Regions from separate parts of the Homo sapiens genome. Here regions 2 and 3 are each linked to region 1. The links come from fine-mapping of genetic effects on gene expression. A gene starts in region 1. Each other region holds a variant in brackets. All regions are shown on one strand. Distances are from middle to middle. Region 1 holds the start of SLC7A7 (solute carrier family 7 member 7). Region 2 overlaps OXA1L-DT (OXA1L divergent transcript). Region 3 overlaps OXA1L (OXA1L mitochondrial inner membrane insertase).

Region 1 (4,221 bases):
ATCAGGCACACGCCGTTAAGCAGTGAGATCTCCTTCTTCAGCTTCACCTGCTCCGGCCCTGGGCTGGCCCCATCACCCAAAGGGGAGGTTTCCACCTCAGGCTGGGAGGCCACTTCATACTCAGTGCTGTCAACCATGGTGGAGGAGAGGAAACCCTTCACCAGCTTCCTGGCATTGCCCTTTAAGGAAGAAAGATGATGCTATAGATTAGGTGGTTGGCAATTACATAGAACCTCTACCCGCCTCCAACACAGGGTAATACGGGCAGCTCACCAACCAATGCGGAGACCTCCAAATAACCTTTTCTCCAGCTCACTCATCAAAACAACCCCAACTTGAATATTTGTCTATCTATCTATGTATTTATTTATTTATTGACAGAGTCTCGCTCTGTAGCCCAGGCTGGAGTGCAGTGGTGCAATCTCGGCTCGGCTCACTGCAACCTCAGCCTCCCGGGTTCAAGCGCTTCTCTTGCCTCAGCCTCCCAAGTAGCTGGGATTACAGGCACCTGCCACCACGCGTGGCTAATTTTTTTTTTTTTTTTTTGAGATGGAGTTTTGCTCTTGTTGCCCAGGCTGGAGTGCAATGGCGCGATCTCAGCTCACTGCAACCTCCGCCTCCCGGGTTCAAGTGATTCTCCTGCCTCAGCCTCCCAAGTAGCTGGGATTATAGGCATGCACCACCACACCCAGCTAATTTTGTATTTTTAGTAGAGATGGGGTTTCTCCATGTTGGTCAGGATGGTCTCAAACTCCCGACCTCAGGTTATCCGCCCGCCTCGGCCTCCCAAAGTGCTGGGATTACAGGCGTGAGCCACCTTGCCCAGCCTCCAACTTGAATTTTTAAGAGAAGGCACTCATTCGCCAGAGAGAAAGGATCTGTCTCTCATCATTAGGACATTGCTGCCCACCCGACTCACCAAATAGAGAACTAAATCTTGGGCCGGGCGCTGTGGCTCACATCTGTAAACCCAGCACTTTGGGAGGCCAAGGCGGGCAGATCACCTAAAGTCGGGAGTTCGAGACCAGCCTGACCAACATTTAGAAACCCAGTCTCTACTAAAAATACAAAAATTAGCCATGCGTGGTGGCACATGCCTGTAATCCCAGCTGCTTGGGAGGCTGAGGCAGGAGAATCACTTGAGCCCGGGAGGCAGAGGTTGCGGTAAGCTAAGACTGGGCCATTGCACTCCAGCCTGGGCAACAAGAGCAAAACTCTGTCTCAAAAAAAAAACAAAATCAAAAACAAAACACTAAATGTTGGTTCTCTCTGAGCCTGCTATAATACAAGACAGGCATGGGGGCAGTGTGGCGGCTCCCAGAAAATAACTATAATGGCTTGACCCCGAGTTTTCAGCCTTATCCAAAACCCGTCTTCCCTCCAATTTCAGCTTCAGGGATCACCTGTGCTGAGGTACAACATTAGGAACTGACCCTACCAGCAGCTAATCTGTGGGAGCGTCTCATGACACTGCTCTTTTCCCCAAGGACTCTACGTCTGCCAAAACTAAAGGCTTCAGAAACCTGCTGGAAACCCACAACCATCCTCCTGCCCAAAGAGCATCCCTTAACCCTTAGCTGGAGTCTTCAGCCCTGGCAAAGCCCAAGTAGACCCACTTCACCCTGAAAGAAGACAGGCTATTATCTTTTCCTTGCTTTTCCTTTCCCATTCTCTGGTATTCTAAGCCTCCTGCTATCGATCCCTCACATCAGCATCGTTGAATCACCCAAAAAAGTATGAATGAGAGAAGGGCGATCCAATGTACCATAAAACCTAGGGATGATTGGAGGCAGCTGATGGCCACTCCCTACCCCAGAGTTGCTGCTGGAGAGATATCACCCCGAGCCAAGGCAGGGAGACAGCTGCAGCCAGGCAGCACATGCTGGAAAACACCGAACAGGAGACAGCTGAGAGGAAAATGGGAGAGGCTAGTCAAGCAATGGAGAGATGTTAGGGTGAGAGGCACTCGGGAGAAGAAGCGATTAGACACTGCACAGCAGCAAAGAGGAGGGTTAGCAAGGTAAGTGGAGATGAGAAGAGGGTGGAACGCACACTCACTCCTTGGTCCTGGATATAAGCAGGTTCTCACGGCAGTGTGAGCAGCAGTCAGGGAGAGAAGTGCCTTCCAGGATCTGTGGTCTGATGCTCCTCCTTCCCAGCCAGCAGTAAAAGGGAAGGCCAGACAAATGCCTATGGATTTAAGCAAGAAGGGTGGAGGAGGTGAGGCAGCCCGCAAAGGAAGGAGTGAGGGAGGGGGAAAGGAGTATTAAGCAACCATCTGGGTCCAAGGTTCACTGGCCCTTCACATCTGCAAAAGGGGCAGCTAGGAGCTCTTGGCTCAGCACTTTCTGTGATAAGAAGGTGCTCTCTCAGGAATCTCCTTTGTCAGCTCTGCTCTGGGACCAGGGGCCCAGAAGAAAGGACAGTCAGCTGAGTGCAGTATCTGTAGCCCTGGGGAAGCTGTCCCAGAGCAAGTTAGCTGAGGACAGGACAGTAGCGGGGAAGGAATACACAGCACTCTCTCTCTCTGTGTCCTCCATGCCCCACCCTAGCCTCTCTTCTCTCTCACCCCAAGCATTTAAGAAAGGGAGGAAGGTTGCACAGTGTGACACAAAGGCTTGTTCCCATGCTGAGATTACAGGAAGTGTAAGAGCAGTCTCTACACCATGTGACTGGGTGTTCTAAGAGAACTCTGCACACTTCCCCATGCAAAGAGAGACTGGGGGGTTGCCTCCAAGCCTGGGCCACTGCCCCAAAGTCTGAGCCTCAGACTACTTCAAAAGAAACACAGTCAAGAGATCAAATATCTGACTGCATCCCCACCAGACCCACGTGCCTTTTCATTCTTGACAAAACATACCAAGATCTCTGGGATAAGCATAAATTCCTATAAACGCCTTCCTCAAATATAAGTTGACTCCACTTTCCTAAAAAATATGAGGAAATCAGGCCAGACGCGGTGGCTCACGCCTGTAATCCCAGCACTTTGGGAGGCTGAGGCAGGCGGATCACAAGGTCAGGAGATCAAGACCATCCTGGCTAACACGGTGAAACCCCGTCTCTACTAAAAACACAAAAAAATAAAAATTAGCCGGGCGTGGTGGCGGGCACCTGTAGTCCCAGCTATTCGGGAGGCTGAGGCAGGAGAATGAGGAGAATGGCATGAACCCGGGAGGCGGAGCTTGCAGTGAACCCACATTAGGCCACTGCACTCCAGCCTGGGCAACACAGCAAGACTCCATCTCAAAAAAAAAAAATTAAAAAAGAATATGAGGAAATCAGATTTCACTGAATTCTGTTGGACAGACAGGCCCAGAACAGGCAGAGGAAGCTGAGCACTTTTTGGAAATCACATAGTTTATGCTATCTTTATTATTTACTTTAAATCTGGTATTCTGAGTCTCTTTTACCAACAGAAATAGACCCTATCCATTCTGAAATCCAACTGTCTGTTTCTTCTCCTATCTGTTCTAACCCTCTTTGGTTATTCTACAACCAGAGAATAGAGATCTAAATATCTCTGGGAGACATCTCTACCATACATCCTCCCATTCTAGCTCTTTAAACTTTTAATTTAATCTAGGAGGAGGATTCTGGTGTGAGCGTTCCCAGAGATCATGCTTCTCCCAAGACAGGCTCACAATGATCTGAAATCCTTCTGGAGGAGACTCTCCTTTTCTCCAAAATGCTCCTGTAATAATAATTGCTATCACTTATTGAGCACTTACTGGGCCAGACACACTGCTAAGGACTTAAGCACATTATCTCATGGAACCTCCAGAGCTCATATACTCTTAATCACACAAGTATACTATCTCTCCATCTCCCCATCCCCCTGGCCTGCCTTAGTCTCTAGGCCTTCCTTTTATTTTTTTTTTTTTTTATTTATTTTCTTTTTTTGAGACAGAGTCTCACTCTGTCCCCCAGGCTGGAGTGCAGTGGCACGATCTTGACTCACTGCAACCTCCACCACCTCCTGGTTCAAGCAATTCTCATGCATCAGCCTCCTGAGTAACTAGGATTACACCTGGCTAATTTTTGTGTTTTTATTTCGGTATTTTTATTTTATTTTATTTTATTTTATTTTATTTATTTTGAGACAGACACTTACTCTGTCGCCCAGGCTGGAGTGCAGTGGTGCAATCTCGGCTCACTGCAACCTCCACCTACTGGGTTCAAGCAATTCTCCTGCCTCAGCCTCCCGAGTAGCTGGGATTACAG
Region 2 (4,221 bases), 76 kb before region 1:
ACACGCCCAGCTAATTTTTGTATTTTTGTAGAGATGGGGATTTACTATGTTGGCCAGGCCAGTCTTGAACTCCTGACCTCAGGTGATCCACCCACCTCAGCCTCCCAAAGTGCTGGGATTACAGGCATGAGCCACCGTACCCGGCCCAAAACTTTCCTTTTTCAAACCTATACTATAGTCGGTAGATTCTTCTTACCAACCTGCAAGTCCATCACTGCCCAATGCTGATGCCAGGGCTCTGACACCACACCCAGCAGTTTTCTAGCAGTGGAATCTGTTATACTAACTCTTTGAATGAGTAACTGAAACAGATTCTGAAACTGAAACTGCCTCTGCAAGGATTATGACAGTGGGAGAAATGGCTGTCATGACTGCCTCCATGACTGCTTCTAATCATGCCTCCAGGCCTCCATGACTGCCTCCATGACTGACTCCATCTTGCTTCTAAGCCTCACAGGCTGACTGTCCTCACTCATGCCTGGGTGTGGCCAAACTAACCATGGGAGGAATTCAATTTATAGTTTAACTTGCAGGCAAGAATGATAATAATCCTTACCTAACACTAACCCCCTCCTTCCTTGCTCAGGGACTAAAAATGAATGATAGGCCATGAGATTAGGATTATGGGAGGAGCCTGAATTCTGCTAAGGATGTAAACATAGTTTCTATAACCACTTACTGCTCAGGAGTCATGTTGCCAGAGGTCACAATATTTGTGATTTCCCCAACTGCCCCATAACCATACAATATAGGCCGGACAATATAGGTGGTGGCTCACGCCTGTAATCCCAACACTTTGGGAGGCTGAGGTGGGAGGATCATGAGGTCAAGAGATCGAGACCATCCTGGCCAACATGGTGAAACCCCGTCTCTACTAAAAATACAAAAATTAGCTGGGTGTGATGGTGTGTGCCTATCGTCCCAGCTACTCTGGAGGCTGAGGCAGGGGAATCGCTTGAACCCAAGAGGCAGAGGTTGCAGTGAGCGGAGATCTTGCCACTGCACTCCAGCCTGGCAACAGAGTGAGACTCTGTCTCAAAAGAAAAAAAAAGGCCAGGCGCAGTGGCTCACGCCTGTAATCCCAGCACTTTGGGAGGCCAAGGCAGGCAAATCACCTGAGGTTGGGAGTTCCACACTAGCCTGACCAACATGGAGAAACCCCATCTCTACTAAAAATACAAAATTAGCCGGGTGTGGTGGCACATGCTTGTAATCCCAGCTACTCGGAAGGCTGAGGCAGGGGAATCGCTTGAACCCGGGAGGTGGAGGTTGCAGTGAGCTGAGATCGCATGACTGCACTCCAGCCTGGGCAACAAGAGTGAAACTCCATCTGAAAAAAAAAAAAATTACAATGTAATAGTGATGCTAGGACCTAAGATTGGTCTTTTAAGATGTTTTCCAGACTTTTGTATTCTATCTCATGACTCAACTGATCCTGCAGCCCTGACCCAGAGGTAGATTCAGCACACAAGGATTGTTTTCTGCATTCCTATGATTTTATCCCCAACCAGTCAGCAGCACCCACTCCTTAGCCCCTGCTCACCAAATTATCTACAAAAACCCTAGCCTCTGAGTTCTCAGGGAGGCTGATTTCAGTAATAATTCTGTTTTCCACATGCCTAGCCAAGTTTTAATTAAACTCTTTCTTTACTGCAACGCCATGGTCTCTGTGAATTGGTTTTGTCTGTATAGTAGGCAGGAGAAACCTGTTGGGCAATTACAAAACTTTTTCTGGAGTTTCACGGTAAAAAAAAAAAAAAAAAAAAAAAGGCCCTTTCAAAATCCATTAATGGTAGGAAAAGTAGAGTCTATGTATGTGAGAGATCCTATAAAGAGTTATCAAACTGAA[C/T]TTGGGTTCGCTCACCCAGCACAGTAAAGTCAAACATCCACACCAAGTTTTTTGCAGTGGGAGAAAGGAGGGCATTTATTTGCAGGGCACCCAACAAGGAGAATCAGGCAGCTCACACTTAAGACCCAACCTCCCCAGTGGCTTACAGTTAATGGTTTTTTAAGGCAAGGAAACAGCGGTTATGGGCAAAAATCATAAATTGGGCCAGGTGCTGTGGCTCACACTTGTAATCCCAGCACTTTGGAATGCCGAGGCAGGTAGATCACCTGAGGTCAGGAGTTCAAGACCACCCTGGCCAACGTGAAAAAACCCCATCTCTACTAAAAGTACAAAAATTAGCCAGGTGTGGTGGCAGGCGCCTGTAATCCCCAGCTATTTGGAAGGCTGAGGCAGGAGAATCACTTGAACCAGGGAGGCAGAGGTTGCAGTGAGCCAAGATTGTGCCACTGCACTCCAGCCTGGGTGACAGAGTGAGACTCTGTCTCAAAAAAAAAAATCATAAATCAATACATGGAGGCCATACAGGACATCTCAAATCGGGGCTCACAGGCCACAGGTGAATTCAAAGATTTTTCTGATTTGCAATTGGTTAAGGAGGGAAAACTTTGTAAAAAATTTAGGATCAGCAGAAAAGAATGTTAGCTCTGGTTTATGGGCATGCTCCCTCCACACCCTTCAGGAAGAAATTTATAACAAAGAATGGTGGCCAGCATTCATTCCTCAGTTTCCCCCTTATCTGAGGTCTGCGTGCCAGAGGAGCCATTTGATGGAGGTCTGGGTTTCTGAAAAACAACTCAGGGATATATGTTAAGATGTTATCTTCAGTTTCTAAAGGAAACCAAACATCCTGTGACTTCAACTTCCTTGGCTATTGTTTTAAGCTACCATTCCCTTCTTGCTTATCAAGTTGTTCATTTACTTCTCAAGGCTAGCTAGGTGCCTGGAATTTCCCTTGAAGGAATTCAAGATTTTTCTTTATTTCCATGCTTTGTGGGGAAGGTCATCCCTGGCAGGCCCCCAAGAGGGGTCTTTGCTCCATCTCAGAGTCTATGTGTGACTGGAACTCTCATACATTGCTAGTGGGAGTGCAAAATGATATAATCACTTTAGAAAATACTCTAACCTTCTCTTATAAAGTTTAACATATACTTACCATACAAACCATCAAATCCCTTTTTAGATGTGTACCCAAAGAAAATGAAAATAGAGATCTACTCAAAGACTTGTATGCAGCTTTATTAATGATAGCCAAAAACTAGAAACAGCCCACATGTCCATCAACTAGTGAATAGATAAGCGTATGGTGGAAGACCCATACTATGGAATGCTCCTCAGCCATAAAAAGGAACAAATTAACATATAATCTAGGTAAACTGACACCCATTTTACTTGGGAGGAATATGGCCTTCTAGTGAGAATGAGTAATGAAGGTGTGATATTGAAGAGTTGGCCCAGCTGTCCTCATGCACTGCTGTCCACTCTATCATTCATAGCCTTCTTCAGCCTCAGTTCCTGTTTTTTTAAAATAAGAACAACGTTCATCTCAACACATAAAACTGGCAAAATAGTAATAACTATGTTGTAGAGAATTCAGAAAACTGATGCTCTCCAACAGCTAGTGTGATCCTCAGGAGCGCAGTCTAGGAATGGGAAAAAAAAGCCTTAAAATGTGCAGACCTCCTGACCCAGCCATTTCACTTTTAGGCAATTTCCCTAAGACTATAATCACTTATGATGAAAATATTGGTCCTAGTGACATTGACAAAGTTACTCATTTTATCTGATGTATATTTGTTTCAGAAAAATAATGCCAATATTATTAGTAATAATAAAACTATGACCTACATAAACAAAAAAACTTTGTGTTATCTCACTTAAACCTCAAAACAGCCTGATGTGATACTTACAGATTTCACAGGTGAGGAAAATGTTGTGCCTAATGACACATATCTGGTAAGTATATCCTTAGTCATCAGGATGCAAACCTTGACTGTCTGAGACAATCCTCACTGTTAGCCACTGTCTTACACAGCCAGATATACAAGGCCTGGGCAATTGTACCCACTGTTAGAAATTCAGATAACTATGTTTTAGAGACTGCTAGTAATGACTATATCAAACAAATCAATACATTGAACATTAATTCTTTTTTTTTTTTTTGAGATGGAGTCTCGCTCTGTCGCCCAGGCTAGAGTGCAGTGGTGCGATCTTGGCTCACTGCAAGCTCCGCCTCCCGGGTTCACGCCATTCTCCTGCCTCAGCCTCCCAAGTAGCTGGGACTACAGGTGCCCGCCACCACGCCCGGCTAATTTTTTGTATTTTAGCAGAGACGGGGTTTCACCGTGTTAGCCAGGATAGTCTTGATCTCCTGA
Region 3 (4,034 bases), 42 kb before region 1:
AACTGTGGCACACAGAGATGTTCATTTTAAAAACGGATTTCATGAAACACTCTTGTACTTATGTTTATAAGAGAGCACTGGGTAGCCAAGTGATCTTCCCATTCACAGAGTTAGTAAACCTCTGTACTACATGCTGCTTCCTGATACTTATTGAACAGGGAAATCAGTGTGCACTTCAGAAAACTGAAGAATACCCAGCATTTTGGGAGGCCGAGGTGGGTGGATCACCTGAGATCAGGAGTTTGAGACCAGCCTGGCCAACATGGGGAAACGCCATCTCTGCTGTTTTACAAAAATAGCCACACGTGGTGGTGCACACCTGTAGTCCCAGCTACTCGGGAGGCTGAGGCAGGAGAATTGCTTGAATCCGAGAGGCGGAGGTTGCAGTGAGCCAAGATCGCACCACCGCACTCCAGCCTGGGCAATAGAGGGAGACTGTCTCAAAAAAAAAAGAAAACTGAAGAATAGAGTGAGTCATGATTGCTTTTGCTGGCCCATGGCCTTGGAAAATATAATGTTTTAACCTGGCATTAAGGGTTTAAACTTCCACCCAGGCGCAGTGGCTCACGCCAGTAATCCCAGCACTTTTGGGAGGCCAAGGCGGGCGGATCACGAAGTCAGCAGATCGAGACCATCCTGGCCAACATGGTGAAACCCCGTCTCTACTAAAAAAAAAAAAAAAAAAATTAGCCGGGCATGGCGGCGGGTGCCTGTATTCCCAGCTACTTGGGAGGCTGAGGCAGGAGAATGGCGTGAACCCAGGAGGCAGAGCTTGCAGTGAGCCGAGATTGCGCCACTGCACTCCAGCCTGGGCAAGAGAGTGAGACTCCTTCTCAAAAAAAAAAAAAAAAAAAAAAAAAAAAAAACAGTTTAAACTTCCAACCCATGCATGTGTTGTTCTATGCACATTTGGATTGCAGTCTAGAGGTGTGGCTGATAAGTTGAATGTTGAGATTGTATCTAAATATAGTAACCGCACTTCTTGATCCCAAGATTACTTTAAAAATTTCAAGAAGTAGATGTGTGCAAATTCTTAGTGATAATTAAGAATGAAAGTTCCAGGCTGGGCAAAGTGGCTCACACCTATAATCTCAGCACTTTGGGAGGCTGAGGTGGGTAGATCACTTGAGTCCAGGAATTTGAGACCAGCCTGGGCAACATGGCGAGACCTTGTCTCTGCTAAAAAGTTAGCTGAGCATGGTGGTGCTTGTCCATAGTCCCAGCTACCTGGGAGGCTGAGGTGGGAGGATAGCTTAAGCCCAGGAGGTTGAGGCTGCAGTGATCCAAGATCATGCTGCTATACTCCAGCCTTGGCTACAGAGCAAGATCCTGTCTCAAAAAGGAAGTTCATGTCATTTTTATGTAACAATCCAACATTTGACTAGAGCAGTTTAAGTGTTCTGTTGTCTGCCTTTGTGTAGAGCCTGGTTTATCAGCCTTCAGCAGCTAGCTTGAGAGAGAAAAGATGGATATACTTTCAAGCATAAGATTGATTTTAGTCTTTGTGTTTCTAGGCTAATGGGAGCTGTCCTAGAGATAGATACTATATAAAATGAAGCCACTCAGACTTTAGGAACATAAACTTTTATTGTCATCCAGCACCTGTGATAGTTTCATGTCTCTCTAAAGGAGACAGGAAATTGGAGCATTGTGGGCCCTTTTAAAAGAAAAGAGGAGTAGGTAGGCACACCCAGGTGCTTCTAAAACAACCAAGCCCAAACCTGACATGCTCCTCCCCACAGTCACCTTCATTGTCCCCTTTAAAAGTCTGGAACAGTATGTAGCAAAACAAATAAATTACTTTTCATTTCAAAAAGTAAGT[T/C]CAAAGGTTGAAGCTGCCTAGGCCAGGCTTCTGGACAGGTGCCTCCAAAGAAGTGAGCTTTCCTTTTCAACTTCCTTAGCTCTAGCCAGTAGACCAGAAACCCCTGCTTTCCACATCAGGATTCCAGATGGTGTTTAGTTAGATTTGGGATCCCGTTGCTTGGGCATCTCTCCTCCATCTTCCAAATCCATTTCTGCAGCAACTGACATACACAGGACCTGGAGGTACCTTGTGGCAGACCCTACAAAGAGAACTTTGAGTTGGAATTGAGAAGAGGTCAGCTGGGCTGAGTTCAAGTGTCACTGAATGGAACTCAGTGTGAGGGGAGTGATTCCACTAAGCCGAAGGGTTCATAAGAAGGGGCTAAGGCAAAGATGTCTTTGGAGGCTGGATTTACAGAAAAAGGCAAAAACCAAGCTCTGCAATAGCTGAGCGGACTTAAGGATGCACGGCTTACCCACGATCCTTCGGAGGTAAAGCGGTCGCTTATGTTCTGGCACTCTGATGATGAGGAAGTAAAAGGGCAGGCCTGAGAGGGCAATGGCAATGCCGATGAGGGAGTTGATAGTATCACTGTAAAGTGGAACAGCCACCAGGAAGATGGTGCAGAGGCAGAAGACAATCGGGAAGAAAACGCTGAGCTAAGGGCACAGGAAACATAACTGGAGTGGACAACTCAGGATTCTTAACAGCTAAAATAACCCCACCTCCCATAAGGATTAGCGCACTGAGCCTTCTTTCCATACCTTTAATTTCAACACATTACTAACGACCAAGTCCCAGGCAAAGGTTTCTAAATAAAGTGCTTTGTCATAGTCCCTTGTAGCAACAACTCCAGCTGTTTCAGGTGGAGCAGAGGTAGGATGGAGTTGCCTTACCTTGAGGGGACGAGGTCGATCAGGCTCCTTCCAGCGCAGATAAAGCTGACCCACAATAGAAAGCCCCACAAAGAACCAGTAGCTGAAGCTGTAGTAGTTAATGAGCTGGAAGATGTCTTCCACGCACAAGTAGATCAATGCCATGATACCCTGTAAGCGTGAGCCTAAGTCAGCTCTTCTCAGGGCCTTTGTTAATCCAAAGGCTTTTCACTCCCTTTATACCCCAGAAATCCATCCCCTGTCAATCCTCAAAGTCTCCTGGTCCTCTTCTGGTTTTAATCCCTTTAACACCCTAGTTTCAGTACCTTATCCCCTCTCTTATAAGTCAGTAGTCTCAACTGGCTTTTCAACCCATTCTTCAAGTTAACCCTGTATAAAGCAAGCTCGAAACAATCCCTCAAAAGTCTTGCATAGGACCCTTTCCATAATGGCTCCAACCTACAATAACCCGCTCTTATCTCCTCCTACATGTTGAGTATCCCTGTTCTGAAAATCCAAAATGCTCCAATGAGCATTTCCTTTGAGTGTCAAGTCAGCACTCAAAAAGTTTCAGATTTTTAGAGCATTTCAGATTTTGGATATTCAGATTAGGGATACTCAACCTGTATTAAAACCCATACTGCTTTATCACAGGATTTTCTGATGCTATTTCTCCTACCTAAAGCCCATCTCTACCATTTGCAACCCTAGCCATCAAGATGCACTTTTTTTTTCTGAGAACACTTTGGTGGATTTTAAGACACACACACACACTTCTAGATGTAATTCTTCACCCTCTACTCCCATGGAAGTGATCGTTTCTTCTCTTAAACACCGTATCACTCACTATCTGTCATGGCAATCAATCATTACAGTGTATTCCATGTACTTTTTGCCTTATCTTAGAGCAGAGGTGTACCATTCCTTAGAGCATTTGGATTTCCCCTGTAGCGGTTAGCATAGTGCCTTGCCCGTGGTGAACATTCTGATCCACCAATAGTTTTTCTATTGGAATCTTTCAGAGCTTTCAGGAAGCTAGAACAGTCGCTTCTGCTGTTACTAAAGTTTCCCCCGCAATCTGGCTTTCAGTCTCATCCTTGAGTTCACTTACATTGAAGAGCAGAGAAGGCACTGGTGTGAACCGCTCAACATGGATCATGCAGATGGCATCAGGGAGATGGCCTTCTCTTGAGCCCACAAAGAAAAGCCTATGTTAGGTAAGATAGGAGAAGCTGAGAAAATTGGTGGACACGGTGCAGCCTGGTTCACCTGCCACATGGCCCTCCCTCTCTGCCATCCCTTCCTTCAAAAGTATTTGGATAATATGGACTGGAGCTCAGTATTAAGATTAATGA

Evidence for each region. PIP is the estimated chance that this variant, and not a neighbour inherited with it, causes the effect.
Region 2: its variant is the best candidate, but not a certain one, in a credible set for the expression of SLC7A7 in whole blood (INTERVAL, PIP 0.52).
Region 3: its variant is the best candidate, but not a certain one, in a credible set for the expression of SLC7A7 in whole blood (TOPMed, PIP 0.66).

The regions. Positions count from the first base shown.
Region 1 is chr14:22,813,262-22,817,482 of GRCh38, forward strand. It overlaps SLC7A7 (solute carrier family 7 member 7), which reads right to left and starts at 2,174. Exons shown (of 10, transcript NM_003982.4): 1 at 2,059-2,174; 2 at 1-179. The coding sequence starts at 137. RefSeq lists silencers at 22-81, 102-161 and enhancers at 1,469-1,975, 2,164-2,263.
Region 2 is chr14:22,736,906-22,741,126 of GRCh38, forward strand. The region is part of intron 1 of OXA1L-DT (OXA1L divergent transcript); the gene reads right to left. Among named protein-coding and RNA genes, the nearest start is that of OXA1L-DT, 28 kb to the right of the region's middle. RefSeq lists an enhancer at 353-522. The variant C/T (reference allele first, on the strand shown) is at 1,850.
Region 3 is chr14:22,771,654-22,775,687 of GRCh38, forward strand. It overlaps OXA1L (OXA1L mitochondrial inner membrane insertase), which reads left to right. Exons shown (of 10, transcript NM_005015.5): 10 at 1-1,389. SLC7A7 (solute carrier family 7 member 7) reads right to left here. Exons shown (of 10, transcript NM_003982.4): 7 at 3,791-3,887; 8 at 2,701-2,850; 9 at 2,280-2,463; 10 at 1,569-2,063. The coding sequence ends at 1,957. Among named protein-coding and RNA genes, the nearest start is that of OXA1L, 7.0 kb to the left of the region's middle. The variant T/C (reference allele first, on the strand shown) is at 1,823.